2 separate regions of the Homo sapiens genome follow, and region 1 is linked to region 2. Evidence: fine-mapped expression QTL. A gene starts in region 2. The other region holds a variant in brackets. All regions are shown on one strand. Distances are between the middles of the regions.

Region 1 (15,920 bases), 600 kb before region 2:
AATATAACCATTCATGCCAGTCACAAAAACACTCAGTAAATGATAATTATTAGTACCATTAATACAAAACTATAATGTGGTAAAGCTCCCAGTGGAATGAACAGTGTGCTTTAACACAGAAAGGAGAGTGATAATAATAGGTTTGTGGAAGGGGAACTGGGAAAACTTTATAAGAAGGATGACTTTTCATCAGAACCTTAAAATACATTTAGGGCTTCCTATATTACATATATATATATACACACACACACACACACACACACACACACATATATATATATACACACACATATATATATATGGATTAAGAGGTTAAGTGTGCTTTAGACCAAAAAAGCCCATAAAGAAGAAAACATGCTTTGGCTTAAGATGTATTGTGTCCAAGGAGACAGCAATGTGTCTGTATTAGTCTGTTCTCAGATTGCTATAAGGAACTACCCGAGACTGGGTAATTTATAACAAAAGGAGATTTAATTGACTCCAGTTTCACAGGCTGTATAGAAAGCATGGCTGGAAGGCTTCAGGAAACTTACAATCATGGCGGAAGGCCACAACTGGAAAGGGAAGCAAGCACATCTTTACATGGCAACAGGAGAGAGAGAAAGAATGAGGGAGAGAGAGGTAGCACGAAGGCATGAAGGGGGAAGTACTACACACTTTTAAACAACCAGATCTCATGAGAACTCTATCATGAGGCAGCACTAGGGGGATGGTGTTAAACCATTAGAAACCACCCCCATGATCCAATCACCTCCCACCAGACCCCACCTCCAACACTGGGGGATTAAAATTCAACGTGAGATTTAGGTGGTGACACAGAGCCAAACCACATCAGTGTCCAAGATAAACTTTCCATTGAACTCCACATGAATGAATATTTGGCTGGAGGAAGAATTGGCAATAAATAGCATTAATTAATTAACTAATTTTTGTCAGCTTTATTGAGGTATGATTGACAAATAAAAATTTTATATACTTAAGATGTAAAACGTGTTTTGATATAAGTATACCTTGTGCAATGATTTTCAGAGTCAAACTAATTAATATATTTGTCACCTCAGAGTTACCTTTATTTGGTAAGAAAAAGATCTGAAAAATTTGAGTATACAATACTTTAACTATGGTTACATGTCAATAGCATTTATTTAACAAGTAAAAATGCTTGCAGGTCATCTCCTAAGTGCCAACCACTGTTTCATACTTTAGAGTTACATAAGCAACAAACCATGAACAGAACTGAGGTGATACTAGAAGGTGGACTGATATCATCCTTCAACAAAAGGATGCTGCCAAGTCTTCCATTGCGGAAAGCAGATCCTAAACGCCAGTCATATCTCCTAGAATAAGATTAAAGAGCCTAGTAGACCTGGTTATCTAAACCACCAAATGGGCTGACTCTGATTGGACTCTGAGGCTACACCAAGGAGCAATCCATCCCCAGATTAATCTCCAGAAGGCTACTCAAAAGCTACAAAAAAGATCCAGTCAGTGTTCAGCTACAGATACAGATTAAATGACACCAAAGCTTATCCCTGCATGAGTTACCTTGTAAAAATACCAACATTTAACTTTACCAGTATTGAAAAACTCTATGGGTGGTTAGTGATAGATTTGAGAAAATCTAAAGCAGAGTCCTGTGTGAAAACAGTGAAGAGTTTTCTGTAAAGAGATTTTTTTTTTTAAGCCAATGTACAAACATCATCAGCATTTAAATTAGACTTCGAGGACTAAAGGAGAGGTCTGAATTAATGTGGTTATTCTTGGCGCTCAATGCCTGTGCCCAGCATCTCGGGGGCTACCAGTTTTGAAGACTACATTCCAGATCTAATGTCTTGGTGTTTGCATTTAGTGATTTTGAACCTCTGTGTAGTGGAGGCACTGAAAGAGAGAACAAAAGAATGAAAAATAAAAATGTAAATGAGCTTATTTAACACACAGCCAAAATTCTTTGATGTTAGGTAATTGCTCAATATACCAAGATAAGCAAGAAATTATCAATTCATCATTTTGAAGTGTCTACTAGTCTGTGTATATTGACTATTTTTGAAATTATGTACATCTACAAAATACATCTATATCTATAAACTGGTTTATAAGCATGATTAACTTTTCTCATATATATTGTAACAAATGTTACTAGGATTTAAAAAACAGCATAATCTAGAAATGATGACACTGACTGAGGCTCTGTCATGTAGCTCACCTGTAATTACCTGTGATGGAAAAGGGCCCAGGGCCTGGCTGTATACAATCAAGAGCCACTGATGATGAATTGATGCGTTTCTATTTGTGTGTGTCTGTGCCTGATGGCTGACTCTAACTGACATGAAAGAAAGACCCTTCCTCTCTTAGGTTAAAGCATTCATGTTTTGAAGAGAAAGGCCAGCTTTTAGGCCTTTGCATCTTGGAGAAAGAGATTATAAAAATGAGACTCCCTCCCTGTATGCTGCAGTTCAAAAAGACCCGGCATTGAATAACTTAATCTTTTGCAGATCTCCTTTTATAGCCTGACCTGACAGGTGCCCAGAATGCCTTGATACTACAAAGCAAATTAAAATTAAACACACAGGGAGTAAAAAGCTTTTGCTGTCAAAGCAGATACCAGGAGAAAGATGTCTGTTTTACAGCACTGTGCTAGGCCGCCATAGACCAGACCAACCTGGGCCCTGCAGGCTGGAAGACACTGAGAGGAACCCAGAAGCCAGCACGAGCAGAATTTGGATTGAGGTATATTCCAATTTCGGGGAAATAAGACAATGATATAAGCCGGGCATGGATGGAACTGGTACCTAAATATTTTTGCTAGAGGGGGCCCTGTGTTCTGGGCAGGGTCCAGATTGGGTGACCCACACACCTGGGACAGTCAAGAGACGTCACACAAGCGCTGAGCTCTAGTCTGAATGTTCTGGGATGCAGATCTACATCCTAGGGCTAGGAAGGCCCATCTGAATCACCTTGGAGACTTTTTAAAATAGAAGCTTCTTCTTCCTCCTTCTTAAACTCCTTCATCCAGGAATCATAAACTATTATATTTCCTTCCCCCAGGAATCATAAACTAGTAAACCTGAGAGTCTGTCCATATTTTTTACATATTCCCACATAACAATCATTATTAATGATTCCTCACTCTTGTCTCACCCCAGTTCAGTCATTCTCAATCCTGGCTGCACACTGGAATTGCCAGGTAAACTTGGACACTTTACTGATGTCTAGTTCTCCCTGCTGAGGGTTGGTTTTTATTGGTTTGAAGCAGAGCCCAGGTGTTAGTAAAATCTCCCTTATGAATATTGCGTGCAATCCATATTGAAAACTGATGCATGAGTATCTTCAATAATGTGCAGACCAAAGGGAAGATTGCCCTCCTTTTCTAAAGGCCCCAGTGACACAGAATCTTCTTCGTCATTATGAAGTCAATTTCAATTTGGAGGGTCCAGTAGCAGAAAAAAAATTTTTTTGAAACAAACCAGAATCTGCTTCATGGCACCTAATTGTCATGGTCCCGATTCTTCACATGGATTAAATCGGCCCATGGGCCGTTAGAACATATCTCCGCTTTAGCTGATGTCTCCTTGGTAGGCTGGCCGCACTTTCTTCATAGTTCTAGGGCAGTAAGCAAGGCTGGCAGGAGATCTTATTCAATCAATACACACTTATTTGGAGCCTATTAGCTCTCAGGTGTACCAGGCTTTAGGAAAACAGGCCAGACATGCCAGCACAGTCTCACCAGTCTAGGGTTGAAAACACATCCAAGTGGAGGCAGCTCGTAAGTGCAGACATCCGTAGTCAGCCTGGGCTCCAGTACCAGCTATGCCTTAATCAGTCTGTCACTCCAGGCGAGCTATTTCCCTGAGCTTCAGCTCCTCCAGCTATAAAGTGGTGGTACTAACACAAATATTTGTGGGGTATTATTATGTATCAGATAATAGAAATTCAAAAAAGGTATAATATGATATCCAATTTAGGACAAAATATGCATGTAACCCACAATGCACAATGATATGTATCATAGGAAGTGATTCTAGAAGAATCGAGAAAGAGAAAGACAGCATGATTTTCATGGGCTTCACCCCTGGGCACATCACATCAAGAAAACTGGTAATCAGGTTGGCCAATGCTGAGAATGTAATACCCATTGACTCCTTGCGTAGCACTAACTCAGTGAGCTAGACGAGATAATGTGCATGCACTTTGTGGGTCTACTATAGATATTAGCTGTCATCCTGTTGCCTTAATTGTCCTCAATCCAAAATGGACAAGACTGACTCCAGACCTGAGAACAAAGGTAAATCCTTCAGAGTGCCTAAAATCCTTCCAGCTGGAAGGACCAAACTACAAGACTGTACCCTGGGATACAGATACCTACAAGTCACTGCAGGAACTGGAGAAACATGACACCTGCTTTTGGAGGACGCTCCCTGTGTCTTCCCATTTTAATCTTCTAAGCAATAGGGTTCAGTCCTATTGCTTCCTCCCCAAACAGTTAGTGGCTTTTGACCACTGTAAAATAAATCCAGATAGGTACACAGGTGGGATTGATACATTTAACAATAAATATATTTGTAAATATCTATGTTTTCAGTCTTTTCAAAACATTACACAATTTTCTACTTCCTTGCACTAGGTAATCAATCTTCCTTATTGGAAATACTTTCCTCTAACTGTTGCTGATCGCTCCTATCTTTCCATTACAATGATGCTTCTGAACCTGGGCTATACATTAGAATCGATTGGAGCACATTAAAAAATACTGACACCTGTGGTGAGGTATGGTCGGTGGGGTTTTTGAAAGCTGCTCATTAATTCTATTTTACATTCATATTGAGCCCCACTGCCTCACAGCTGGGATAAACCAACCTTCAGCTCTAAGCTGCAGCCTTCTCTAATCACAGCAACTGTAGTGATGGCCCCTACATCTGAATTCCAGCAGTAATTGCTTCTCAGGAACACCAATTACAGACAGCTTCACAATATAGTTATTTACAGAATGATCACTAGGTCAAATTAGGTGTGTATTCTAGATTAGATCACTTCTACCATAGCATGTAGAAATCTTAGAAAGTGAATCCCTGAGCCTTCATTTCCTCATTTATATTAAGAGCACTGTATTAGATGATTTCTAAGTGGCCTCACAGATTAAGTACATATTTTGAAAGTCAGCATCTTGTCTTCTAAACTAATTTGCAGTTCCCTGGAGGGCAGGGACCACATCCCATGCTGCTTTTGTTCCTCACAAGCAGTGGAGTGCTTCAGTTAAACTACAGATCTTATTTTTCCTGTGCCCGCTCCATCACAAGTTTCTAGAGGAAGCTCATTCTCGCCATTTATTTGGCTGTTACTAAAAAAATTACTCACCATTCTTAGCTCCCACATTATCTTTGGAACTATGTGTTATAGGCATCATTTGTTAGGCACTACAATAATCACTTTACATCCATGACACATGTTCAAATATAATTATAATTCTGAGTGGTAGATATTATGTCATCCAATGTTTATTTGTGGGTTGGTTTCCAAATTAGTCCTGTTTGCATATGTTATTTTTTCAATAAAAAGAGAGTTATGATACCTTGATGGTGTAGAGCTCCACTGACCAGATAAATTTCTGAAAACTATAAAAAAAAATTAAAGGTCCCTGGAAATGGTACTAAGTACAATTAGCACATAAAGAAACATCTATTCAAGAACATTTACAAATATCAGCAAGGAAGAACAAAGTCTGTCTTATTTTGAATGAAGATGGCTACAGCTCAGTGAGGTGGACTCTCTACTCCAGACTTCCAGTGCTGCCAAGCACTGGGGTCCCTTTCCCTGGCTCTCGGCTGGAGGCTGTCTTCCCAGAACATCAGTATTTCTCATCTCACCTCCAGCTAGTTTGTGTTGGGGATGAGACTTGGGTGACTGCAATGCCCACTCAAAGCATGGCAGGCTGATGACACCAGCTTCCTCATAACCCTGACCCAACTAATGAGGTGGTGATCCTAGGCCTGCAGTCATAAACTGAGAGGACCTCAGCTGGCTGCTTCACTAGCCCACCCAGCACCACCTACTAGAGTGTGGTGTCACTCAAAGAGAGACTTGTCATTGTCCCCACCCAGGCTCCAGAGTCCTGGTTAAGAGATATGCCTGGGGGAGAAACAGATTTAAAACAGCTCCTGATCCCTTCCCAAAGGCATTGACTTCATTGGCAATAAAATATGGAGAAAGTCAAGACCAAGGGCTTTCTCAAGAAGAGTGGAGTTGTGGTGAAAAATCTGAAAGGAATTTATGAGTCACATAATGGTACAGGTTAGACCATAATCCAGCTAGCTTTCAGAAGACAGATGTACACTTGACCCTTGAACAACATGGAAGTTAGAAGCCCTGACCCCCTATGCAGTTAAAAACCTGTGTATAATGTTTGGCTGCCCCCAAAACTAACTATTAATAGCTTACTGTTGACAGGAAGTCTTACTGATAACATAAACAGTTGACTAACATAGATTTTGTAGCTTATAGGTATTACACATTGTATTCTTACAATGGAGTAAGCTAGAGAAAGGAAAATATTATTAAGTAAATCATAAGAAGGAGAAAATATTTTTACTACTCATTAAGTGGAAGTGGATCATCATAAAGGTCTTCACCTTTATCGCCTTCACACTGAGTAGGCTGAGAGGAGGAGGAAAAGGAGGTGTTACACGTAGTTAGACAAGTATGAGCAGGGCAGGAGAGGGCTCTTTCCCCACCCACTAGAAATACCCGGTGATGGTTTGGTACTTATCACATTGCCTCTTTAAAA[G/T]TGATAAATTGGCAGCCGGTGCCAGGGAGAGGCCATTTTCGGAAAATCCACAAGTGCTGCACTAAAATGTTAATTGAATGCAGGCACCAGGGAGACACAGCTTCCTGAGCGGGCGCATTAAGAGACAAAACGGCAGAGTATAACCTTCTGAAGACACTCCCCTGGAAAAGGGAAGAAAGCCTCAGAGAGGCATGTGCACAACTTCGTAAACATACTGCACGTGCTCACCTCCCCAGGGTAAGGGGGGCCCTTACTGTGCATGTGGGCAGCCCACCCTAAGGGAAAAACCATGGGAAAGGGCCCAGTGTTTAAAGTCCTAGGATGAAGGTTAAACACTGCACTTGACCTCGGTGCCCCCTTGAGTCTCTTCCAAGCGTACTTTCCTTATTTTCTTTCCCATTTTAAAGCCTTTTAAAATAAACTTCCACTCCTGCTCTGAAACCTGCCTTGGTCTCTTTTGTTGCCTTATGCCCCTCAGTCAAATTTTTTCTTCTGAGGCGGCAAGAATTGAGGCTGCTGCAGACCCACGAGGATTCGCCATCAGTAACTCAGATACCTTCCATCAGTAACAGAGGCATTGGTTTTACTGGCTCATGGGTGGCAGAGGCAGAAGAAAAACCACATGTAAGTAGATGCTCATAGCTCATACCCGTGTTGTTCAAAGATCAACTGTAGATTAGAACAGCTGGGTAGAGTCCTCTTAGTGTCAGAACAAATATCAAAAACTGACTTCACAGCCTGGCCAACATGGTGAAACCTCGTCTCTACTAACAATATAAAAAAAAAAAATTAGCTGGATGTGGTGGTGTGTGCTGGTAATCCCAGCTAATCAGGAGGCTGAGGCAGAAAAATTCCTTGAGCCCAGGAGGCAGAGGTTGCAGTGAGCCAACATTGTGCCACCGCACTCCAGTCTAGGTGACAGAGTGAGACCCTGTCTCAAAAAAACAAAAAACTGGCCTCAGAAACAGATTCATCCAAGAAGTCACAATCTCTAAAGAAGAGACACAAATGGTCAATTAGCACAAGAAAATATGCTTGGCATCATTAATCATCATAGAAACGTAAGTCAAAACCATAATGAAATACAACTACACTCCCACTAGGATGGCTAGAATCAAAAAGTCAGATAAATGTTGGCAAGAATGTGGAGAAATTGGAACACTTGTGCATTGCTGGTAGAAATGTAAAATGGGGCAAAATCCTTTGGAAAACAGTCTGTCAGTTCCCATAGTAATTAATGGTTTCCATCTGATTCAGCAATTCCACTCCTAGGTATGTGCCCAACTGAAATGAAAGGATATGTCCACAAAAATGCCTGCACATGAATGTTTATGGCAGTATCATTCATAATATCCAAAAGGTAAAAATAACTCAGATGTCCATCAACAGGTGAGTGGATAAACAAAATATGAAATGACCATACAATGGAATATGACTTGGCTATAAAAAATATAGAGTACTGATACATGTTAGCATATGGATGAACCTTAAAAACGTTATACTAAATGAAAGAAGCTTGACACAAAAGACCACATGTTATATGATTCCATTTATTTGAAATGTCCAGAATAAAGATATCCATAGAGGCAGAAAGTGGATTAGTAGTTATTCAGGACTGAGGTTGGGCAGAAAGGGAATAATGATATTCCAGAATTGATGGTGGTGCTATTTGCACGTATCTGTGAATACCCTAAAATCCACTGAATTGTACAGTTTACATTGGTAAATTTTATCTTATGGGAATTGTATCTCCATAAAGCTATTTTTTTTAAAAAAAAGGAAAAACAGGTTAGAATTAAGGATATCAAAACAAAAAGGAACAGTTGCCAAGATGGTGTTAGAGGAAAAAAATTATTTGGGGTACTTCCCATTGAGGATAAAGAAAGAGCAAGCAGTATTGTCAAGGAGAGCCTTCAGAGCATAATACAGACCTGACTTGGACAAATAGAGGGTAAAGGCAGAGGATGCTTGGGTAGAAGGAGCCTCAGAGTGCAGTGAAGCTCTGAGCATTTCTAACCCAGCCCCAAAAGGAGCTCCGGCATAAAGCGTGGCTTTTAATGAGTCCTGCATGGGCAGATGTTTTCTTGTACTGCTGTCTTGCCTAGTCACCGGCTGGGAGCTGCCGGGAGAAGCATGACCTCAGTTCAAACAGTGCCGTGGATCCCAAAGGTGCAATTGCCGAAGGCCATCAGCTACTTGCACTTCTTATAGCTGATCAACAAGTTCTTGAAGGGAAATTGGAGCCTCATAAGTCCATGTCTGCCACAAGGGGCCTTAAAGTAAATTATGTTTTAGATCTTGAAATCATCATTACAGAGGAAATATCAGTGTTAGCAGTGGTGAATCTGTACAGGTCTCAGCGACTCAATTCCTGCTGCCTCATGGGAAAGAATTCATCTGAGTGGCATAAGCCAGAGCGAGAGACTGAGGCAAGTTTTAGGGTTGGAGTGAAAGTTTATTAAAAAGTTTTAGAGCAGGAACAAAAGGAAATAAAGTACACTTGGAACAGGTCCAAGCAGGCAACTTAAGAGATTCAAGTGCACCATTTAGTCCTTTGACTTGGGGTTTTATAAGTTGACATACTTTCAGGGTTTTTTGCATCTCTCCTTTGATTTTTCACTGGAGTGGGCTGCCCACAGTGAGCAGTGGCCTGCAAGCACTTAGGAGGGGCCACAAATGCAGTCTGTTTACTGGAGCTGTGCACATGGTCATTTGAGGCATTTCTTACTAGTCAAGTGTTCCTAGAGGAGGGTCATTATACCAGTTAAACTCCGCCATTTTGCCTCTTAGTGCGCATGCTCAAGCCTACTCACCCAACTCCTTGAATCTTACTGAGAAGCGGCTCATCACCAGCTTCAGGTGTTTTCTATATATTGGAAGACTACCTTTCCCTAGCTCCAGATGTGAGCAATTACTATTTTAGAGAAACAGTTTAACAACCTCATGACCATCACCTGATGGTTGCCTTATATTCCTCGGAGGGGGCCCCCTCCTGCCTTGCTCATGTCTGCCTAGCTACCCACTCTAACATCAGGACTCCGATGAAAATGACAGTAAGTCCAGTGTCGTGAGTATACTGAACTTATTTTCTAAATCCTAAATCCCAAATCAGAATAAATAGTTTGATCAATTTTTAAATTATGAAATTGTATAATTTCCGATGCATAGATTAGAAATATTTCCTCTTTGTAAAGCATTTATAGTGCCATAAAGATTACTGACCTATTGAACAGGCACAGCCTCTACAACATTCTTACTAGACTTTTAAAATTATTATTATTTTGAAACAGGGTCTCGCTCTGTCACCCAGGCTTTAGTGCAATGGTGTGACCTCAGTTCACTGCAACATCCACCTCCTGGGTTCAAGCGATTTGTGCCTCATCTCCCGAGTAGCTGGGACTACAGGTGCACACCACCATGCTGGGCCAATTTTTGTATTTTTAGTAGAGAGGGGTTTTCACCATGTTGGCCAGGCTGGTCTCAAATTTCTGGCCTCAAGTGATCCACTTGCCTTGACCTCTCAAAGTGCTGGCATTACAGGCATAAGCCACCATGCCCAGCCCTTTCTAGGCTTCTTAATGTAAAATAATTAAAAGAGACATTAATGTTTGACAAGTCTGTTACGAATGCATGGCATATGAAATAGTAAAAATCCCTTAGGCATTAGGAGTCCTCAAAATCTGATGTTCTTTATTAAGGGAGTTGATTCTAGAGGTCTTTCACTTCCAGATTATCCACTGGTCATGATGATATTTGCAATAATAATTAAGGCTTATCAATTCTAATTTTTTATAAACTGCTTGTGATGGTGATTAAGCTCCTATCTCCCAGCTCCAAACCCAATCTTTGCTCCTTTTCTTTGTGATGCTGGATTTAGGCTCTGCAGATAATTTTTCTGCTGTGACAGCTGGCTCTAAATTCAGTTTTGGCAAAAGGCTTACAAGAGCAAGGCAGGCAGAAGTAGGTAAGGACTTGTTTTTTTCTGCTTTTTCCCTGTCTTTTTCCTGGTCCTACAAACAACGTCCAAAAATCACCCCATGCTTCTGTCTGCAGCAGCAGGTAAAGACATTTAGCAGCTCTTCAGTACTCAGAGAACCAGAGAGTAATCCTGTTTTCTCATAGAGCCCAGCAACAGCCTTTCCTTGGGCGTCTTATGTTTCAGCTCCATGCACCCCCCTTGAGGCTTCTAAGTTCCAATAGTACACATCTGTCTTTCTAGTTCTGCCAGTCCTAAAGAGTAGGGCAAGCTACTTCCTGTAGTTGCTACCTTCATGTCTCAGTGTTGTTGTTTTGTTTTGTTTTTGTTTTTTTCAGCTCCCTACTAAATTTTATATAAAATCCTGCTTAGGTTCTCTCTTAAAACTATGTTGTCTCTCATATGTTATATACTTTCGACTAAAATATTTGCTATATTTTCAGTTATATCAGTTATATCTTCAGTTTCCTAATTGAACCTAATAGAGTGCTTTATGCACAAGATCTAATTTAATTTTTCCAATAACCTATCTAAATAGATATTATCCCTACTTTACAGATGAAGCAACACACCCTCAGAAATTGTTACTTGCTCAGAAACTCCTTTCTTGTTAATGAGAGACCTAGATCCAAGTGCGTCTGAGGAATTCCAAAGATCTTGCCCTTAATCACCATCATAGGGTGTTTTCTGATGTGAGCCCATGGGATTCCTGACTTCCTTTGGACACAGTTGTTTGCTTCTCTTCCAGAACTTTCTGGAATTAGTTTTCACTCTGTCATTCTGCCATGAACATAACTGTATGTTTGGCTCCATAAAACATTCTAAAATATTTCACTCACATTTTTATAGTCTTAGTATATAGACTGCAAGAAAACAAAAAGTATCCTAAATCATAGATAAGACATTTCTTAAATTCAGTAATATTGACATCTTAACTTCTCCTTAACCTTTATTTTTTTCAAGGAGTTGAGGCATTTCCATTTCATGACTGTTGGAAAGCCCATGCAGGGATGCACAGCTTTCTTCCTTGACAGCTGTGTCCTCAAAGTGTACCAACTATGTCCTCTTCAGTGACAGTAGCCATGGCTAAAATGCCAATGTGCTGCAGTCATCACAACCCTCAATTTTAAAACATTTTCATCATCTCAAAAAGCAACTCTGTAGTTTTTAGCTTTTGCTCCTCTATCCTCCTGTCTCTCACCTCATCCCCAGCTCTAAGCCATCACTAATCTGATTTCTGTCTCTATAGTTTGGCCTGTTCAGGCCATTTGATATAGATGAAATCATACAATATTTTGTGCTTCATGACAGGTTTCTCTCAGCATAATGTTTTCAAAGTTCATCCCTGTTGTGGCATATGTCAGTACTTAATTCCTTTTTATGGCTACATAATATTTCATTGTATGGGTATAACATATCTTCCTATACATTTGTTATTAGGTTGGTGCAAAAGTAATTGCAGTTTGCCATTGAAAGTAATGGCAAAATCCATGATTACTTTTGCACCAATCTAATAGTTGGTGGACATTTGGGTTGTTTCCATTTCTAGGCTATTGTGATTTGTGTATAAGCTCTTATGTGGACGTGTTTTCATTTTACTTGGGCATGAACCTCACGGTGGAACTGCTGGGTTATATGGAAATTCTCTGCTTCATCATTTGAGGGTGTGTCCGATTGTTTTCCAGAGTGGCTGCACCATTTCACATTCCCACCAGCCTTGTGCTAGTGTTACGATTTTTCCTCCTTTGCCAATACTTGTTGTTAGGTGACTTTTTGATTTTAGCCATCCTACAAGATGTAATGTAGTATTTTATTGTGATTTTGACTTGCATTTCCCTGATGACTGATGATGTCAAGCACATTGTCATGTGTTTGTTGTCCATTTGTATGTTTTACATGCTGAAGTGTCTGTTCAGGTCCTTTGCTCATGTTTTTTTTTTTTTTTTAAAAAATTAGGTTCTTTTTCTTTATTATTGAATTGTAAGAGTTCTTTATATATTCTGGAAATGAGTCTCTTGCAGATAGATGCTTTAAAAATGTTTTCTACCATTCTTCAGGTTGATGTTTTACTGTCTTAATGCTGCTTTGAAAGCCATCACTTTGAAAAAAAATATTTGATAAAATGCAACTTATATATTTATTTTGATGCTGTGCTTTTTGGTGTCATATGTAGGACTCCTTTGGTAAAATTAAGGTCGTAAAGATTTATTTAACTCTGTTTTATCATAAGAATTTTACAAATTTTGCTTTTACATTTGGGTCTGATCCATTTTCGGTCAATTTTTGTATGTGGTGTGAAGTAAATGTCCAGCTTCATCCACTTGCATGTTGCTATACAGTTGTTCCAGCACCATTTTTTGAAAAGGCTATTCTTTCCTCATTGAATAATTTTGTACTCTTATGGATTATCATTTGACCATAAATACATAGATTTTCTTCTGGGGTGCTTTCAGTTTTATTCCATTGTTCTATGTGATTGACTTTTTGTCAGTTTCACCCTAACTTAGTTACTACAGATTTGAAGTAGTTTGAAATCGTGAAATATAACTACTTCTATTTGGTTTTCCTTTGTAAAGATTGTTTTGGCTAATTTCCCTGAAATCCCATATGAGCTTTAGAATCAGCTTGTCAATTTTTATAAAGAAGTCAGCTGAGATACTGATGAGAATTTTATTGAATCTGTAGCTCAGTTTGAGGAATAATACCATCTTAACAATGTTAAGTCTTGTGATCAATGAACATAGGAAGCTTTTCTAATTATATACATAGTCCTCAATTTCTTTCAATTACATTTTATAGTTTTTAGAATATGTTTTGCCCTTTTTCCGTTATAATCCCTTTAAGTATTTCATTATTTTTGAAGCTATTGTCAATGAAATTGTTATATTAACTTAATCCCCACAGTGCTTATTGAAATTGTACAAAAACACAATTAACTTTCATTTTGATCCTGTATCCTTCAACCTTGGTGAATTCATTTATTAATTTCTTTGTGTGTGAATTCTTTCAGATTTTTTATGTGCAGAATTATGCCATCTACAAATACAAATAGTTTTACTCCTCTCTCTTCCTTGTGGATGTCTTATTTCTTGATCTTGACTAATTACCTTGACTAGAATATACAGTTTACTGCTGAATGGAAGTGTCAACAGTGGATATACTTTTATTATTCCAGATCTTAGGAAGAAATTATCCAGCCTTTAACCATTGAGTGTAATGTTACTTTCTTCATAGATACCCTTTATGTTTATCAATTGAAAACATTCTCTTCCGTGATGGTTAATATTAGGTGTCAACTTGAATGGAGTAAGGGATCCCTAGATAGCTGGTAGAGCATTATTTCTGAAATGGCATTTGTGGAAAAGATTAACATTGGAATCAGTGGACTGAGTGAGAAAAATCCGCGCTCACTTAATGTGAGTGCTCACCATCCAATCAGCTGAGGCCCAGATAAAACAAAAGGTCAGAGGAAAGCAAATTCTCTCTCTCTCTCTCTCTCTCTTAGAACTAGGCTTTTCTCCTGCCATTGGTCATTTAAACTTCAGGTCCTCTGGCCTTTGGACTCCACAGCTTGCATCAGCAGCCCTTGGGTTCTCATGTCTTTGGATTGAGAATTACACCATCAGTTTCCCTGGTTCTGAGTCCTTTGGACTTGGATTGAGCCACAATACTGGTTTCCCTGGTCCTCTAGCTTGCAGATGACCTGTCATGGGACTTCTCTGTCTCTATAATCATGAGAAATAATCTCCCTAATAAACATATTCTCATATAACTATATCTAAGGCAATACATTCAATTGGTTCTGTCTGTCTGGAGAACCCTAATATACTTTCTTTCCTAGTTTGTTGATTTTGTTTTTGTTTTTGTTTTTGACCCAGTAATCCCATTCCTAGGTATATGCTGAAAGGAGTATATACATTTTTCTACTGAAAAAACAAATGCATGTGTATGTTCAACACAGCACGATTCACAATAGCAAAGACGTGGAGTCAACCTAAGTGTCCATCAGTGGTGGATTGGATAAAGAAAATGTGGTACATATACACCATGGGATACTACACAGACCATAAAAAAGAATGAAATAAATAATGTATTTTGCAGCAACATGAATGCAGCTGTAGGCCATTACCCTAAGCAAATTAACACAAAAACCAAAAGCCAAATACCACATGTTCTCATTTACAAGTGGGAGCTAAACATTAGATATATGTGAACATAAAGATGAGAACAACAGACATGGGGGATTAGTAGAAGGAGAAGGGGGAGGAGGGAAAAGTTTGAAAAACTACCTATTGACCACCATGCTCATTACTTGGGCAACAGGATCAATCATACCCCAAATCTCATTATGCTGCAATATGCCCATGTAACAAACGTGCTTATGTATGCCCTTAATCTAAAATAAAAGCCGAAATAAAAACAAAAAAATATTCTATTGAAATAGGATAGTGTATTAATTGAAATTCAGATGTTAGCCAGGTGCAATGGCACATACCTGCAATCCCAAATAATTGAGAATCCGAGGCAGGAGGATCTCTTGAACCTGGGAGTTCAAGACCAGCCTGAGAAATATAGCAAGACCTCCACTTAAAAAAAAAGTTCAATTCAAATATTGAGCCAACTTAGCATTCCTGGGATAAATTCCACTTAGTCATGGTATATAATTCTTTATATAGGTTGTAGGGTTGAGTTTGGTAGTATCTTGTCCAGGATTTTTGGATCTGTACTTGTGAGAGATATCTATAGTCTTTTTTCTTGTGATATGTTTGTCTGGTTTGGGTATCATAGTAATATTGTTCTCATAAAATGAATCGGAAAATATTATCTCCTTTTCTTTTGTTTTTTGTTTATTTTTTTAAATGTCTTTGAAGAACTGGTATTACTATTTTTTTTAATGTTTAACATAGTTAAGCAGTGCAACCATCTGAGTGTGGGCTTTCTTTTGTGAATAGCGTTTTGTGTTATTTTGTATTGATTACTTATCCAATAATTCACCTACTACAAGTGTATTCAGATTATTTGTTTCTTCTTGAGTTAGTTTGGTTAGTTTATGTCTATCTAACAATGTGTTTAGGTCATCTATGTTACCTAATTTATAATTAGTGCACAATTGCTCTTATTAATTGGTAATTCTTTTTATTTCTGTAGCACCAATAGTAACCTGAG
Region 2 (15,920 bases):
AGGCTGGTGGGAAGAGAATCACAGAGCTGTGTCCTGATCACACTGCACTTCATCCAGCCTGTCAAGTGCACCATTTACACACCCAAGCACAGATCCAAATGGTACTCGGGACCAAAGGAAAATCATGTTAATTTTTATTGTAACATGGACTCTCCGCTGCTGTGGGAGAAAAAAATAATGAGGAATCTGATACTCACCCAGGTTAAAAGAGCATTACTGAGACTGAAGTAGGCTGTGGATATCTGCAGGCAACTTGGATTGCTTTATGTGCCTTTCTTACATTCCACATTTCTATGGGAAATATGTGCTGCCTTCAAATGGAGGAAGAGAAAACAATAAATACCACAAAGTACCAAAGTCACAACTAAATAACTATACTTTAACATATAATAAACCCACAGACTTAAGAGAATGAAACCAAAATAATTTTCCCTAGTTTACGATTCTGTAGCAGTGACATTTTTCGTCCTGGAAAAGCTACGTAAGGTCCAGCGCAGAAGTGACCTTGGAAGTCACCTAGTCCAAAATGTTCGTGCTAGAGGTGAGGATTTTAAGGGCCAAGGTGATCAACCCCTGTTCCTAAGATCACGTGGCTGATTTATGTTAGGATGGGGGCAGGAGACAGTCTCCCTGGCTCAGACCCCTCTTCCCTCACAGGTGTGTCTCTCTAAGGCACTACTCACCTCTTAGTAGAAGCCTGGGTCCTCTTGCCACCCATCCTCCCCTCCTCCCCCTTGTCTGCAAACGCCCTTCGATTTTGCACAGCAGCTAAAAGCTACCCTAATGATGACCACAAATTGGTAGAATTTTTAGTGAATGCCCTCTCCAAGGAAAGGTCACTGTATTTCTTGTTCATGTTATGATTACTTAGAATTTAATGGTTACCTGTGCTTCACACATCTCTGCCTATACCTTACTTTATTTGGAATAACAAAAGTAATGTAAGTGTTTTCAAAGCTGACAGACAGAGACAGAGTACAGAAAGAGCTATTGATGCATCGAGGGCCAGAAAGAAAAACAACAGCAGACACCTAAGTTCAAGAGTCAATTACAGCAAAATGTAGTTGATTACAGGGCTCATGGGTCGCGGGGAGTGGGTAAAGCAACCTGGCCACACAGCTTGGTGATTTAGAAAGAGTCCTGGCTAGGGCTTTCCCTCAGCCTATCAAGGTGGAGGGGAGACGCTGCACCTGCCAAAGCCGATGATTCCCTGTTCCCGGTGAGGACTATCCACAGACACCCTCCTCCTGCACTTGTGCTTATCAAATCCCAGAAATCTACCGGACACGTGTTTGCCTGAGTTACCAGCTCTCCCCATCCCCTCTTGTCTGTATCATCGAAAACAATGACACATTCATAGCTATTCACATGGATGTTTTCTCTAGCTAAGAAGTGATTAAGACAAACAAATCAGGATAATAGCCATGTTTTGAAGAAACCAGATTTGGCAAATTTTAAAATTGTGCTTTCAAAATTGACTATTCATTTCTTTTTATATTACACTTCCAAACACACACATACACACTTAACAATCACACATTTGGAACCATACATGTCTTCTTGGGTGTATAAGACAAAGATACTGATAGAAAGGGAGCAATGTCTCCAGGAGACACTGGCCCCTCTCCCTTCATGTGTAGACTGCAACTCTAGGACTTGCTCTCCAGCACTGGTGCAGGCTCCGCCTCTGTCTTTGATTTAGATGGGAGAGGGCAGGAGCCATCTCCCCACCCCAGCCCCTAAAGCCCCCCACTCTCTTTTTTGGAGCTAAGAGAGCAGGCCACACTGGACGATAGTGCTGCTTGCTCAACAAAAAAAATAACTGTTTTGGGGGAAATTATTTAACTTCATTTAAAAATTCCCTGAGTTTTCTAGTTAAATGTCTTTTTTAGAGCATATTCCTCCCACTAAAAAATGGTTGAATAAATATATTTTTAATAAAAATAAGGTTTGTTTAAACTGTAAAAGATAGGAAGTTCTAGCCAATGCCTGGTTAACAGGAACAGTGTGAACACGTGAAACAGTGTGATCTGAAACCACAGACATCCCTCTTGGTGTTAGCTCCAATGTTGCATGTGTATATTCTGTGTGTGTACATCTGTGTGTGTGTGTGTGTGTTCATTTGTGTGCTGGGTCATGATGTAAAAATCCATTTCATATGTCAGATCATAGTCAAAATAAGTTTGAAGCCCCTGCCCTGTGCTATCCTGCCCTGCTGATACTCTGTGTTTTCCTTAATTGTGACAAAGATGAAACTACAGAGGCAAAACGAGAAGAGTCATGCCTTGCTTGCATTGCAAAGGGACGTGGATTTTGTCCTAATGGTGAAGGGCATCCTGAGCATGACGCTGGCAAGTCCCATGGTCCCTGTTGCATGTTGGAATGAATAGTCTGTCTGCAGAGTGGAAACAGGGACATCAGTTTGGTGTCCATTACTAAAAAATGTGTAAAGCCCAGAGGAAAACTGAAACATACACACTGATGGTCAAAACATGCAGGAGGAAGTGAACTCAGGAGTGACTCGGGTAGGAGAATTGACTGAGCTTACTGGGGTATGTGAGCAAATATGAAAATCCCTTCATAACTTACACAATAGTTACGGTATGCCAGGAACCCTTTCAGGCACAGAAGAAGAAATATTAAAATAATAAAGACTACATTTGTAAACGTTCTACTGTGCGCAGCACTGTTCTAAGCACTTCATATGTATTTAATCATTATAGCAATTCTAACAAATCAAGCAGGACCTGGACTGTGTCTCTGCACACATGAGTGTGTGTGTGTGTGTGCGCGTGCACGCACATGATGGAATGGTTACTGGTATCCTATTTTATAGACTGGAAAACGAAGGCACAGGATAAGTTAAATAACTTGTGTAAAAGACACTATCAAGAAAATGAGAAAACAAGCCACAGACTAGGGGAAGTTATTTGCAAAAGACATGTCTGATAAAAGACTGTTACCCAAAATATACAAAGAAGTCTTAAAGCTTCACAATAAGCACATGAAAAACCTGATTTAAAAAAAATGGGCCAAAAACCTGAAGAGATATATCACTAAAGAAGATATACTGAGGGCAAGTAAATATTTGGAAAGACAGTCCATCTCATATGCCTAGGGAAATGTAAATTACAACAAAAATGAGATAGCACTTCAGACCGAGTAGAATGGCTACAATCTAAAATAGTGACAACAGCAAATTCTGACGAAGATGTAGAATAGTAGAAACTCTCATTCGTTGCTGTTGGGAATGCAAAATGGGACAGCCACTTTGGAAGACAGTTTGAAAGTTTCTTATGAAATTATACAACCTCTTACCACACGATAGAGCAGTATCACTCTTTGATATTTACCCAAGCAAGTTGAACACTTACATCTACACACAAAGCTGCACAAGGATGCTTGTAACAGATTTTATTCATCATTGCCAAAACATGGAAGCAGCCATGATGTCCTTCTGTAGGAGGATGGATAAACTGTGGTATACTCAGACAATGGAATGTTATGTATTGCCAAAAAGAAATGAGCTATGAAGTCATAAAAAGACATGGAAGAACATAAAATGCATATTGTTAAGTTAAGGAAGCCAATCTGAAAAAGCTACATACTGTATGATTCCATATATTTGACATTCTGGAAAAGGCAAAACTATTGCCATAGTAAAATAATCAGTTGTTGCCAAGGGCTTGGAGGGGTGAAGGATGAATAGGTGGGTGGAGGCCAGATGATTAGGGCCATGAAAATAATCTGCATGACACTATAATGATGGATACCTGCCATTATACATTTATCCAAATCCACAGAATGTACAACACCAAGAGTGAGCCTAATGTGGACTACGCATGTTGGATGATTATGATGTGTCATTGTGGATGCACTGATCGTAACACATGTACCACCGAGTGGGGGTGGTTGTGTATGTGTGGGGATAGACACTATGTGGAAGGCTCTGCATTTTCCATTCATGTTTGCTGTGAACCTCAAACTGCTCTAGAAAATAAAGTCTATTTAAAAAAATAGAATACATATCTCATATGAATAATTTCAAAAGACGTGAATTTTGGAGGCAGTACGTTTGTGGAATTATCTGGGCATTGATAACTAAAAGTCAAGCGCTCCATGATGAGAGCCACGCGGGAAAAAGAAAAGATAGTGGAACCAGAATTTTCAATCCAGGGCAGAACGCTTCTGAGCCGTAACTCTGAACACCTAAGCCAGTGTTTTTCAAACTTCAGTGGTGCCTCATTAATAGTGGGTTTTAACTAGCATTTACAGAAATGGAATGGAATGGAATAGAATAAAAAAGAGTATGAATTGCACATAAAAGAGAGATACTGATTTTTGACGCTTTGGTTTCTGCTTTATATGTGTATAGCATGAGTACTGGGTCATGATGTAAAAAGGTGTTTTATAAAATAGGTCATGATCAAAATAAATTTCCAAGCCGCTGCCCTGTGCTGTACTGCCCAACTGCTCTGGCTTTCATGGATCACACTCTGCAGTGGTCAATTCAGAGAATAAATGAGTGAAAAGCTTAACAACATTATTTTAGCTATTGAAACATGTTCTGATGAGCCAAACAGGGTAACAGCATCCACTGGTTCATTGTGTGTGTGTGTGTGTGTGTGTGTGTGTGTGTTTTCAAGGTAGGATTGTTCGATCTATACTCATTACCAGGTCTGAGGAACACTTAAGAAGGAATAAGAAGGAATGTCCAGTAGACAGAATATAACCAGATCCAAATTCAAGATTTAAGGCTGAAGCTGAGATAAATAGATACAGCTAACAATAAGGAGTGAACTCATTTCAGGAGAATAGGTAAAGGGAGAAAAAAGGAAAGGATCCTACCTTATAACTTCATTTCAGAGATGGGGAATGCATGTGGTTGCAATACTTCTAAAAATGGTGGTCAATCCATCAGATAAGTCAAATATTTACCCAGTGATATTTTTAGCATATTATTTGCTTAGAAAAATGCTTCTTTCCTAAGAAAAAGGGACACTTCTTACTCTGGCTGTGTTATAATTTTGAGAGATATCGTGAAATATCTCATCTCTTTATGTAATAGTCCTTTTACGTGACATTTTCTTTGTAAAGATGGAATTATGAAAAGGTAAAAATCACCATAAAAATAGTCATTTGTGCCTCTAATCAGATGTGACTCTTAAGATTCTGAACATTATGTATCCAACAATGTTTATGGTTAACAAACAAACTACATATCTTGCTTATAAATAAGTATATAGACAGACACACACAAAAATGAGTGAATATTGGCTCTAAAAAGATAACCAATGATCCTAATTATGATATACATTCAGTGGCTTAAAAAACAGTAGACCTATTTCCATTTTACTAAATTAGGTTTTCAAGAGGTGCATTATTAAAGGCTATATTTTCTATTTGGTAGCCTAAAATTTCTCTAAATAGTTGGTTACTGTTAATGGCGCAAACATCTGTTTTCAGAAGTAACTATTATTCCTGTAAGAAGCATGCGTACTCTCAAACATGTTCCCATATTTTTTTTTAAATGCTATACTTATTTAAAAATTTTCCCTTAGGGAGCAAAAATAAAGTATACAGATTATCATTTTTTTCATTCCTCACTCGACTACGTCTAACAACATTAAGTATGTGGGGTGAGTCCATGCTACAAAATAGCAATCTAGTTAATCTCTTGTGAAAATTGCCTGGCCTCTCCTACATGACAGGGGGGATTCAGCTGTAGCACCCGCCTGTGCCGCCTTCAGTGCCTGCTTTAGCAATCCCAATCTTTGCTTTATCTTCTCCAACAAACGGCTCATGTTGCCTTGAACAGAAATTATATTTCTTGTTCGAAAGAGCAGATTTTAACTTTTATTTCCTCTAAAAAGATCGCAGCGCTATGAGAATAAAATCTATTATTTTTCACTCCTACTATATTCAGATCATTCTCATTTTAAAGCTAAGCATGATTTTTGCTATAGCGTAAAGATAGCAAATCAATATGGAATTTGCCAAAGATTTTCAAATGCATTCTCTTTCCGAGGCCCAAATGGTAGGTGCCCTCACACTTTGCAAGCAAATAATGAAGCTGAGCTGAAATATTTCAATCCTTTTCTCTAGAGTGTGGATTTGTCCTGCAGTTGTGGGGAGGTGGGTGTAGGTTCACCTTGTGCTCCACCCCACCCTCCCTCCGGTGGTGTTCCCAATAGCTGAAAAACGTGTGAGCTGTAAGAGAAAAACAAGACCTAGTGCTCGCCGTGCGGGAGTGAAGATGAGTTTTCACACACTGCCTTGGATTTTATACATCTCCAGACTTTAAGTCACCCAGTATGAATGACTGTAAATTCTTTTGGTTCCTATGGCCCTGGAAAGAATAAATTGCCAGCATTATCAAGATTTAAGTTGGTCTGAATATTCCAAGTATTCGATGCAGTGTTTTTCTTTAGGATGAGTCGGGGAAGTGGGGGACGGGGGCGGGAATGGCTTATCGCAATGGCGGTAATTTTTTCAAATCATGATCTGTGTAAAACACGGTATTATTTTATGATATTAGAATCCTCAGAGAAGATCCAATACTTAAGAAATGTAGTATTAATTGCAGGAGGGCACCTGAAAGGAAGCAGATTCGGATAATTTTCCCAGTCCTACACGGCTGATTTCTCTGGTGAAGGGATCCGGGCAGTGTCTTAGGAACTGCTCAAAGTTCCCAGATACCCAGTGCTGGGGGGTGTGGAGAAGGCGAGGGTGGCGACAGACCATACCTATGAAGCGGTGATTTTCTTTAATTGCCCCCAGAATATCCGTAGAGGTAGTAGGGACTCAATAAAGAAACACAAAGGAGACGAACACGGCACGATCGCCGGGGTCCGCGGCTGCTCTGCGAGGCCCAGCGCGCCCCAGGTCGCGGCTCCCCGGCCGCCAGCGCACCTTTCCATCTCCAGGGAAAATATTTAGACGGGAAACTCGAGTGCACCTTATTTTCTCTTTGGTTTATGAGTGACCCAGAAGGCTTCTAGCTCACAATCGCACGATTTCAGGACGAGGCTGCCGGAGAAGCGCTGGCGACCGAGGATGGGGGAAGGACAAAGAGGAAGAGGAGGCCTGGGAAGGAGAAAGGAGCGGCGGAGGGGCGGGGAGAGGACGGGGCGGGGAGAGGAGGGGCGGGGAGCAGAGGGAGAAGGGAAGGAGGGCGCCGGGCCCCTCGCAGGGACGCCGGGCGGGGCGCGGGCTTGCTGGAGCCTGCGGGACCCAGAGCCCGCTCCGGAGCCAGCCCTGGGAGTGGCCAGCTTGAACCCGAGGGCCCCGCAGACCGTTACTCCGGCCCCCGCCCGGGGCGGGGCGCGCGGGGGCGCGGCGCAGCCCAACCCGCACAGCCGCGTCCCCAAACACCACCGAGGAGGGAAAACAGACGGAGAAAAAGGACAAAACAGAAAAATGCAAAACGGGGGAGGGAGCTCACCGCCTCTCGAGCTTTAAATTGATTTCTTTGCCTTACAAAAAGGGAGAAAGGGAAAAGGAGAGCAGAGCCCACGTGCCGGGAAGGTTGCTGTCTTCAAGCGCCACCTTCCGTCGGCCAGGGCCGCCGCGGGGCTACCGGGCGGGCTCGGGGCGGCGACCCGGGGGAGCGGCCGAGCCCCGCGAGGGGCTCGCCGGGGAGCAGCTGCGCCCACCCCGGGGCAGGCCGGGCGCGGCTGACCGCGAGCCGGGCGGAGGCCGCCGTCTCAGGCTGGGCGCGTGCCCGAGTGTGTGCACCCGGGGAGTGAGCGCGCGCCGTCCGCTGTCGCCGTCGGGCCTCCCGGGGACTGGGCACAAAGGCGCGCGGGGCCTCTCCCGGGACCCGGTCCTCGGTTAGCGCCGGCGCCCGAACCATCCCGGTTCGCCCCGGGCCGCCCGCTCCCCGTGGTGCCGCGCGCCGCTTCCGAGCATCCCGGGAACAGGCGCATCTGTGCACACACGCGGATTTTTTAAAAATAACATATTTCTAGACATGCCTCCTCTCCCCCCACCCCCATCTTTGCAAAGCAGCCCGGAGGGCGGGGTGGAGGGGCGGGGCCTCCGAGTTAATAAAGGAAGATGGGCGGAGCCGGCCCCCAGCCATTGGCTAGCTGGGGGAGTGATGTCACCCATATGACACCCTGATAACTAGTTGAGAGAGAGACCTCAACTTTTTGCAGAAGGAGCGCGCGCGCCTGGGAGAGCTCGGGGTCCGGCGCTTGCGGTAGGAGCCACGAGCCGGAGAGAGGGGTCCCGGGCTGCCTCGACCGCCGTCGCCACCGCCTCTCCTGTCGCGACCGCAGCTCCCACCGCGCCGGCGGCCGTCGTCGCCGAAGCCACCACAGCCGCTGTGTGCAGCCTGGAAGGGGGGGCGGGGGGGAGGGGGGGAGCCGCGAAAGCGGGGTGCCGAGGACTTTGCAACTTGCCCAGGAAGGTGGAGGGGTGGGAGGGGGAGGGGGACCTCCGCACGAGACCCAGCGGCCCGGGTTGGAGCGTCCAGCCCTGCAGCGGATCATGGTGCAGCAGGCGGAGAGCTTGGAAGCGGAGAGCAACCTGCCCCGGGAGGCGCTGGACACGGAGGAGGGCGAATTCATGGCTTGCAGCCCGGTGGCCCTGGACGAGAGCGACCCAGACTGGTGCAAGACGGCGTCGGGCCACATCAAGCGGCCGATGAACGCGTTCATGGTATGGTCCAAGATCGAACGCAGGAAGATCATGGAGCAGTCTCCGGACATGCACAACGCCGAGATCTCCAAGAGGCTGGGCAAGCGCTGGAAAATGCTGAAGGACAGCGAGAAGATCCCGTTCATCCGGGAGGCGGAGCGGCTGCGGCTCAAGCACATGGCCGACTACCCCGACTACAAGTACCGGCCCCGGAAAAAGCCCAAAATGGACCCCTCGGCCAAGCCCAGCGCCAGCCAGAGCCCAGAGAAGAGCGCGGCCGGCGGCGGCGGCGGGAGCGCGGGCGGAGGCGCGGGCGGTGCCAAGACCTCCAAGGGCTCCAGCAAGAAATGCGGCAAGCTCAAGGCCCCCGCGGCCGCGGGCGCCAAGGCGGGCGCGGGCAAGGCGGCCCAGTCCGGGGACTACGGGGGCGCGGGCGACGACTACGTGCTGGGCAGCCTGCGCGTGAGCGGCTCGGGCGGCGGCGGCGCGGGCAAGACGGTCAAGTGCGTGTTTCTGGATGAGGACGACGACGACGACGACGACGACGACGAGCTGCAGCTGCAGATCAAACAGGAGCCGGACGAGGAGGACGAGGAACCACCGCACCAGCAGCTCCTGCAGCCGCCGGGGCAGCAGCCGTCGCAGCTGCTGAGACGCTACAACGTCGCCAAAGTGCCCGCCAGCCCTACGCTGAGCAGCTCGGCGGAGTCCCCCGAGGGAGCGAGCCTCTACGACGAGGTGCGGGCCGGCGCGACCTCGGGCGCCGGGGGCGGCAGCCGCCTCTACTACAGCTTCAAGAACATCACCAAGCAGCACCCGCCGCCGCTCGCGCAGCCCGCGCTGTCGCCCGCGTCCTCGCGCTCGGTGTCCACCTCCTCGTCCAGCAGCAGCGGCAGCAGCAGCGGCAGCAGCGGCGAGGACGCCGACGACCTGATGTTCGACCTGAGCTTGAATTTCTCTCAAAGCGCGCACAGCGCCAGCGAGCAGCAGCTGGGGGGCGGCGCGGCGGCCGGGAACCTGTCCCTGTCGCTGGTGGATAAGGATTTGGATTCGTTCAGCGAGGGCAGCCTGGGCTCCCACTTCGAGTTCCCCGACTACTGCACGCCGGAGCTGAGCGAGATGATCGCGGGGGACTGGCTGGAGGCGAACTTCTCCGACCTGGTGTTCACATATTGAAAGGCGCCCGCTGCTCGCTCTTTCTCTCGGAGGGTGCAGAGCTGGGTTCCTTGGGAGGAAGTTGTAGTGGTGATGATGATGATGATAATGATGATGATGATGGTGGTGTTGATGGTGGCGGTGGTAGGGTGGAGGGGAGAGAAGAAGATGCTGATGATATTGATAAGATGTCGTGACGCAAAGAAATTGGAAAACATGATGAAAATTTTGGTGGAGTTAAAGTGAAATGAGTAGTTTTTAAACATTTTTCCTGTCCTTTTTTTGTCCCCCCTCCCTTCCTTTATCGTGTCTCAAGGTAGTTGCATACCTAGTCTGGAGTTGTGATTATTTTCCCAAAAAATGTGTTTTTGTAATTACTATTTCTTTTTCCTGAAATTCGTGATTGCAACAAAGGCAGAGGGGGCGGGGCGGGGGAGGGGAGGTAGGACCCGCTCCGGAAGGCGCTGTTTGAAGCTTGTCGGTCTTTGAAGTCTGGAAGACGTCTGCAGAGGACCCTTTTGGCAGCACAACTGTTACTCTAGGGAGTTGGTGGAGATATTTTTTTTTCTTAAGAGAACTTAAAGAACTGGTGATTTTTTTTTAACAAAAAAAGGGACCATTGCAACTTTTGTTAATTTAATTTTTTTTTTTTTTTTTTTTTTTTTTTTTTTTGGAGGGAGAAAACTGATGTCTTCTATGCATCCGATTCTTAACAAAACTGCAGGGAGCTTGAAAAAATGCAGACTGTACAAACGCTTACAAAAAAAAAAACTGTGAACTGACTTAAGATCAGAGTTTACTTTTCAGATCAAATTGTTTATGGTTTTACAAATGTGATTTCTACTTGCCAACTTTTTTTTTGTAACTTGTTCCCTTATACCTCCTTGATTGAATACCAGACAGCCTAGACCTCAGTACAAAAGGTATTGAAACATTTTTGATACATAACAGACCTCAGTCTTTTTTAAAAATTAATATATTTTCAGGCGTATTTTTGTACAGTGAAAAGGGAACATTCTTGCTGTGTTTTTTCAGTAAGACTTTCAGGCACTTCTTCCCTTTTGATTTCTTTTTTTTCCTCTGTTTTTTAGCATGCAAGTATGTTGGTACGTTATGTCCTGGTTTAAAAAGGATTAAAATTTTAAAATAATCCTTGCATCTAAAGGCCTTGTGGTTTAAAAAAAAAAAGCAAACTTTTTTTTGTACAGCTATAGTAGAGATTTGTTCAATATTTGTAGGTAAAGATTTATTGAAAATGGTGATATAGACCTCAGAGCTGTTATCTTAGTTTAAAGATTGTATATGTACTGTACTATAGTAGGACTTTATGTATCTCATACGCTGTGATGTGGATGGGGCCCCAGATGGAAGGTTTGAAACTGGATTCTCGATTTTTAGCAAAAAAGAAAAAAAAAAGGCACATAGTTTAAAAAGTTTCTCATTTTGTGCAATATAATCTAAATAAAGTACAGACCATCTGCATATTTTGTAGCAAATGGTGGCAAAGCAGACTCAATGCACTGTCGACATCATTGCCTGTTTTTTTTTTTTTTTTTTTGTGCTGGAAGTCTGTATCTTGACAATTTTAATAAATCAGCTGGAACTGATAGAAACTCGCATCGCCAATAGTCTCTATGGAAGTCAAACTGGAGGTCCTGTTGTCGCAGAGCATTCGGTGGTGAGGCTGTTGTGTGCGCGGATGAGGGGAGGTGGCAGGAGAGAATTCTACATTTAGGGGGTTAGGCTGAAAAGTGTTCAATTAGCAGGCTGATTTCTTTTTCCTCTTCCGCTAGTTGTGAAAGACAGGGGAAGGGTGTTCTTTCTCTCTGCCCTCCCTTTCCATCTCCAGCTCCCCATTTCCTTTCTCACCTCCTCCTCCACTCCCTGCCTCTTCTCCCCACCCATCCTGGCGGGCGGGCTGCGCGGAGGCTCGGGAGCTGGCCGGGGAGGGGCGGATGGAGGGGCCTGGGTTGCCAGCTCCCTTGGTCGGGGTCCTGCTCGCTGGGGCTTGTGTGTTCTCTGCGGCGGGCCGCGTCCCCGCTGAGCCTCGCGGTGACAGCCGCCTTTGGCAGCGAGCGCTCGGGGCACTTCTATCCCCGCCTCTCAAAGGGTGGGGACAGCCGTTTCCAGATTTGAATTTTTTCTGTTCTTTATTTTTAACGCTGCATCTTCGCGTGTGCTCAGAGGTGGTTGTTGGCGGAGAACGCCGCCGCAGTGTTTGACCTCTAGCGGTGAAGGGGGAAGGGGAAGAGGAAAGGAGAGAAGTGGTCGGTGTCTGTTTCCTTCTGTCCCCCGGGGCCGTGGAGCTGTCGGAGGGAAGGAGGACGGTGCGGGGCCGCAGGGGGCGCGGGGCGCGGCGGGACCCAGGCTACGAGCGGGAGGGAGGCGGGAGTCGGGGGAAGACGCGGCAGGCCGGCCGAGGGCACCCCGAGGAACATGGCATGGCCTCTGTGCGATCCGAGTCGCGGTCTCCGGGGTGCCTGGGAGGGCCGAACCACTGGTGAGGGCGTGGGGAGCAGGGGGTGGCAGAGGGCACCCGGGCGGTAGTCCGGGACGCGCAAGGCAGAGCCCTGACGCTCCGGGTCCCCGTGCCTGGCTCTTCTTGCCTCGCCACCGCGTGCTCCTGGGCGCGCCCCGCCGCGGGCCCTTGAGGCGCGCGGAGACACCAGCGCTGGCTTCCCGGGCCCGCGGGCCGGGGAGGGAAGCCTCGGGGCTGCGGGGTGAGAGGAAGAAAGCAAACCCGGGGAGCAGGCGGCTGCCGCACCCGCGCACCCCGGGCCCTCACCACGCCCTCCCCGCGCGCCGGCTCAGGGGCTGCCCCGGAATCAGCTCCCCGGGGCCGCCGCAACGAAGGTGGATCCGCATCTTGATTGTTCTCCGGGAGCCTCCTGGGGGCTCCGGCGGCGGCGCGGGCGCGACCCATCCCGCTGGCGCTCCCCGCTCGCTGAACCCCGTTTGCCTGTCCACACCCCCTCGCTCCCCACCATTTTTCCTGACCGGCCTGTGTCCCCGAGCCCTCGCGGCAGGCCCGAGCAGGCGATCGCGGCCGGGCACGCGCGCCCCGGGCTCCCGCCCCCCTTCCGAGCATCCGCCGCCTCTTTTCTGCTGGGTCTGGGAGGAGGGAGGCTGGGAGGCCGCTCGGGGCCCAGCGTGCCAGCCCCGGAGTTCAGCCTCCCGAGCTGCGGCGCCCGCAGCGGAGGAGGTTTTCAGTGGCTGATTGAAACTCACTGCAAAATCACCACGACTCTTTCACCTACTGAGATGATTGACCGAGGTTTGGCCTTCCATTTTTACTGAGATTTGGCGAGACCGAATGGAAGCGTCCGCACAGTAACTGCAGCTGCTAGGCCAGAGGGGCCCCGGCGCCCTTCCCGCCTCCCCTCCCGCTTGCTTTTGCCTTACTCGATCTTACCACCACCCCTCCCCCGGCCCCCCGACTGAGAACTCGGGCCTCTCACCCGCCCCCCAGCCTCCCGCTCTGGGCGAGCCTCCTCCCCAGCCCCCACCCCTGGGATGCGAAGCCAGCAAGCTTTTGCTGCAGATGGACAGGTTTCTTTTCTGTGGCTTTTTCCTTTCGATAAACCATCAGATTTCAGTAGTACATTTGGGAAAAGAAGGGGCTGATGGCGTTAACCAGGTTCTCAATATAGAACTGGATTTCTGGAGTTGTTTACCTTACCCCACACCCCCTCAACATGTAGACTAATGCAGCCATTGGTGGTACATTTATTTTAGCCACGGATAATTGAACCAGCGGTTTACAATTGACACGTGCTCCGTGCTGGTGATTTTATGTGGCAGCCCTCTGCTGCAGTTCCGAAACTTGTTGGCAACGTAAACCCATTGATAGGCTGATCTATGTATTTTGAAAGCCTGAAAACTTGGCATGTCTTTTCTGTTTTAATCATAGATGAATCTTGGACATTTTCTGTGGTGAGGTGGAAACTTTAAGTAAATTAGTAAAGTAATAATTTGGCTTCAGAATGGGAAGAGATAGTCAAGATTTTTTTTTTTTAAAGCCATGTGGCCTAACTTGATACAAAAATAAAAGTAATTGTTTGGCAATCTAAATTTAAAACCTGTTAGAACTCAGGACAGGCGCTTCAATGCGCTTTTTAACAATATTTAAGGCTGTTTTGATGAGTGCGTTGTGAGAATCATCTTAATGAATTCTTTATTGAGTGTCTAAAACATAGTATAATACACATGGTATTCTTGCCACTGGATAGTCTTCAATAAAAGTTTAATTGATTTTTTTTTGTTGGTCTCTTAAGTAAGTCTTATTTTTAACTAAGCATTGACAGAATATCTTAAAATGGTAACCTGGGGGTGGCGGGTGGGTGCTGTGTGCACGGCAGCCTAGCCAGTGGGGATCCTGCTGTTTATTATAAGTAGTTCACAGACTCTGATGGCATTTTGGTAAGCTTTCCATCTTTAAGAAATTGAACCAGCATTCTCTTATTAATTCTTTAAACTGTGGAAGTAATTTCCAGTTCTTACACTCTGATACGCATCCCTTTTATTTAAAAAAAAAAAAAATGCTAATAAAAGGCAGTGTACTTAAACTGTGCTTTGCAAATATTGTGTATGTTATGAATGACTACAGACACTGGGCAAATTATTTGTAGAATGATTATCCTTTAGCTAGAGAAAGAAATCATTACAACTCTTTTGGGCAGAGATGTTTCTTTTTAATGTTAATCAAGGGGAAGTGATTTAAATATGCATAAATGTAGCAGTCAGGGTGATTTAGTTGCTTTTTTCATGAAAGAAAAAGACTCAAAAGACAAGACTTATTTTTCTCTTCTGGGACTTGAAATCATAATCATCTGATATTAGTACAGTACAAGAAATTTACATTTGTTTTTTACTTCAGAATTTAAGTGACTTTTGCCCAAGGAATTTGAGAAATAAGGCAAATAAGTTGCTCTATTTTAAAGTAGTCATTCAATATAAATATATTATATCAATCTTAACTTTTTTATTCTCTGATATGATTAATAATATGTATATTCTTACTTTTCTTCTAATGGGCATATGTATCCTTGTGGACACTTTGAGAGAGGTTTTCTTGGACTCTCCCATTTATAGAATCTTTATACTCTTTTACTGTGTGGTTCCCTGCTTTTAACAGATTTCTGAGGCAAATATATTTGTGCTTTTTTCTTATGTAGGAAGACCAGCGAAAATAGTTTACTGAGTTGTCAATTTTATCAGTAGATAAGAAACTTTCTTTATTACAGTTTCAGGGAAGATTTTTTCAGGATATTTCTCAGTTATTCTAAGGGCCAAATTTTGTAAAATTTCCATTAGGAATGTCAGTTTCAAATACCCTTTGTATAGCCTAAGCCTGTGAGGATAACAAGAATGAGCCTTACCTATCCTAACACAGGGATTTACAAGTTCCCAAAGTAACCGTCTCCATGTAACTCTTGACATACTTTTCTGAGATTTGGCTTATTTTTATTATTGGTTATTTCTCACTGTTCATTCTATTTGATTTATTCTACAACATCCCCTTTTATTTAATGATCTGGAAAATTCTGCTCTTTGATAACAACTCAGGATTTTTTTGTTCAGTTTTGGTTTTTGCCCCTTCCTGTGGAGCCTACATTTTCAACCACAATAAAGATGAAACAAAATTTATGAAACTGAGCTCTCTTCCATTTTACTTACTGCTGGCTTTTTTTTTTTTTTTTTTCCTTGATTCCTACCATACCTTCGTTTTTTTCATTGTACTTTTTTAACACTACCTATATCCATTAGCTGCCTAATTAGTTTTATCTGTTCCATGTGGATGCAGTGAGTTTATAAGAGAATTTCACAAACAAGTAGTTTTTTAGTGAACTTAAAATAAACAGAATTTTAAAGGAGACCTATTTTTATACTCAATAAAAGCACAAAAGTGCAGAAAGTATAAAACGGCTTACAAAGGGAGACACAAGCTCATAATGTTCCATGTATAAAAGTAATAACTTTATTGGGTAGAGATATTCTTACAAGATCTAGCACCTCTGCCAGTGCACAGATAGGACTGTTTTAAATGATTTGGGAACTTTTGGTTGCCTGCAGTTGTGAACAGAGAACTTCTCTACAGAGAAACAAACCACTAAAAGCAATAT

Alleles and levels. Alleles are on the strand shown, and positions count from the first base shown. SD is a standard deviation of normalised expression in the study named.
As copies of G replace T in region 1, the expression in atrial appendage of the gene that starts at base 8,156 in region 2 goes down (moderate effect, 0.56 SD a copy in GTEx).

The links. PIP is the estimated chance that this variant, and not a neighbour inherited with it, causes the effect. A credible set is the group of variants that fine-mapping cannot tell apart.
Region 1: its variant is the best candidate, but not a certain one, in a credible set for the expression of SOX11 in atrial appendage (GTEx, PIP 0.51).

The regions. Positions count from the first base shown.
Region 1 is chr2:5,086,989-5,102,908 of GRCh38, forward strand. No RefSeq gene overlaps it. Among named protein-coding and RNA genes, the nearest start is that of LINC01249, 440 kb to the left of the region's middle. The variant G/T (reference allele first, on the strand shown) is at 6,779.
Region 2 is chr2:5,684,229-5,700,148 of GRCh38, forward strand. It overlaps SOX11 (SRY-box transcription factor 11), which reads left to right and starts at 8,156. Exons shown (of 1, transcript NM_003108.4): 1 at 8,156-15,920. The coding sequence starts at 8,494. The coding sequence ends at 9,819. It overlaps LINC01248 (long intergenic non-protein coding RNA 1248), which reads right to left and starts at 6,890. Exons shown (of 5, transcript NR_110580.1): 1 at 6,747-6,890; 2 at 198-311. It overlaps LOC124908052 (a long non-coding RNA gene), which reads right to left and starts at 6,735. Exons shown (of 2, transcript XR_007088653.1): 1 at 4,849-6,735; 2 at 3,400-3,527. RefSeq lists silencers at 12,379-12,468, 12,759-12,928.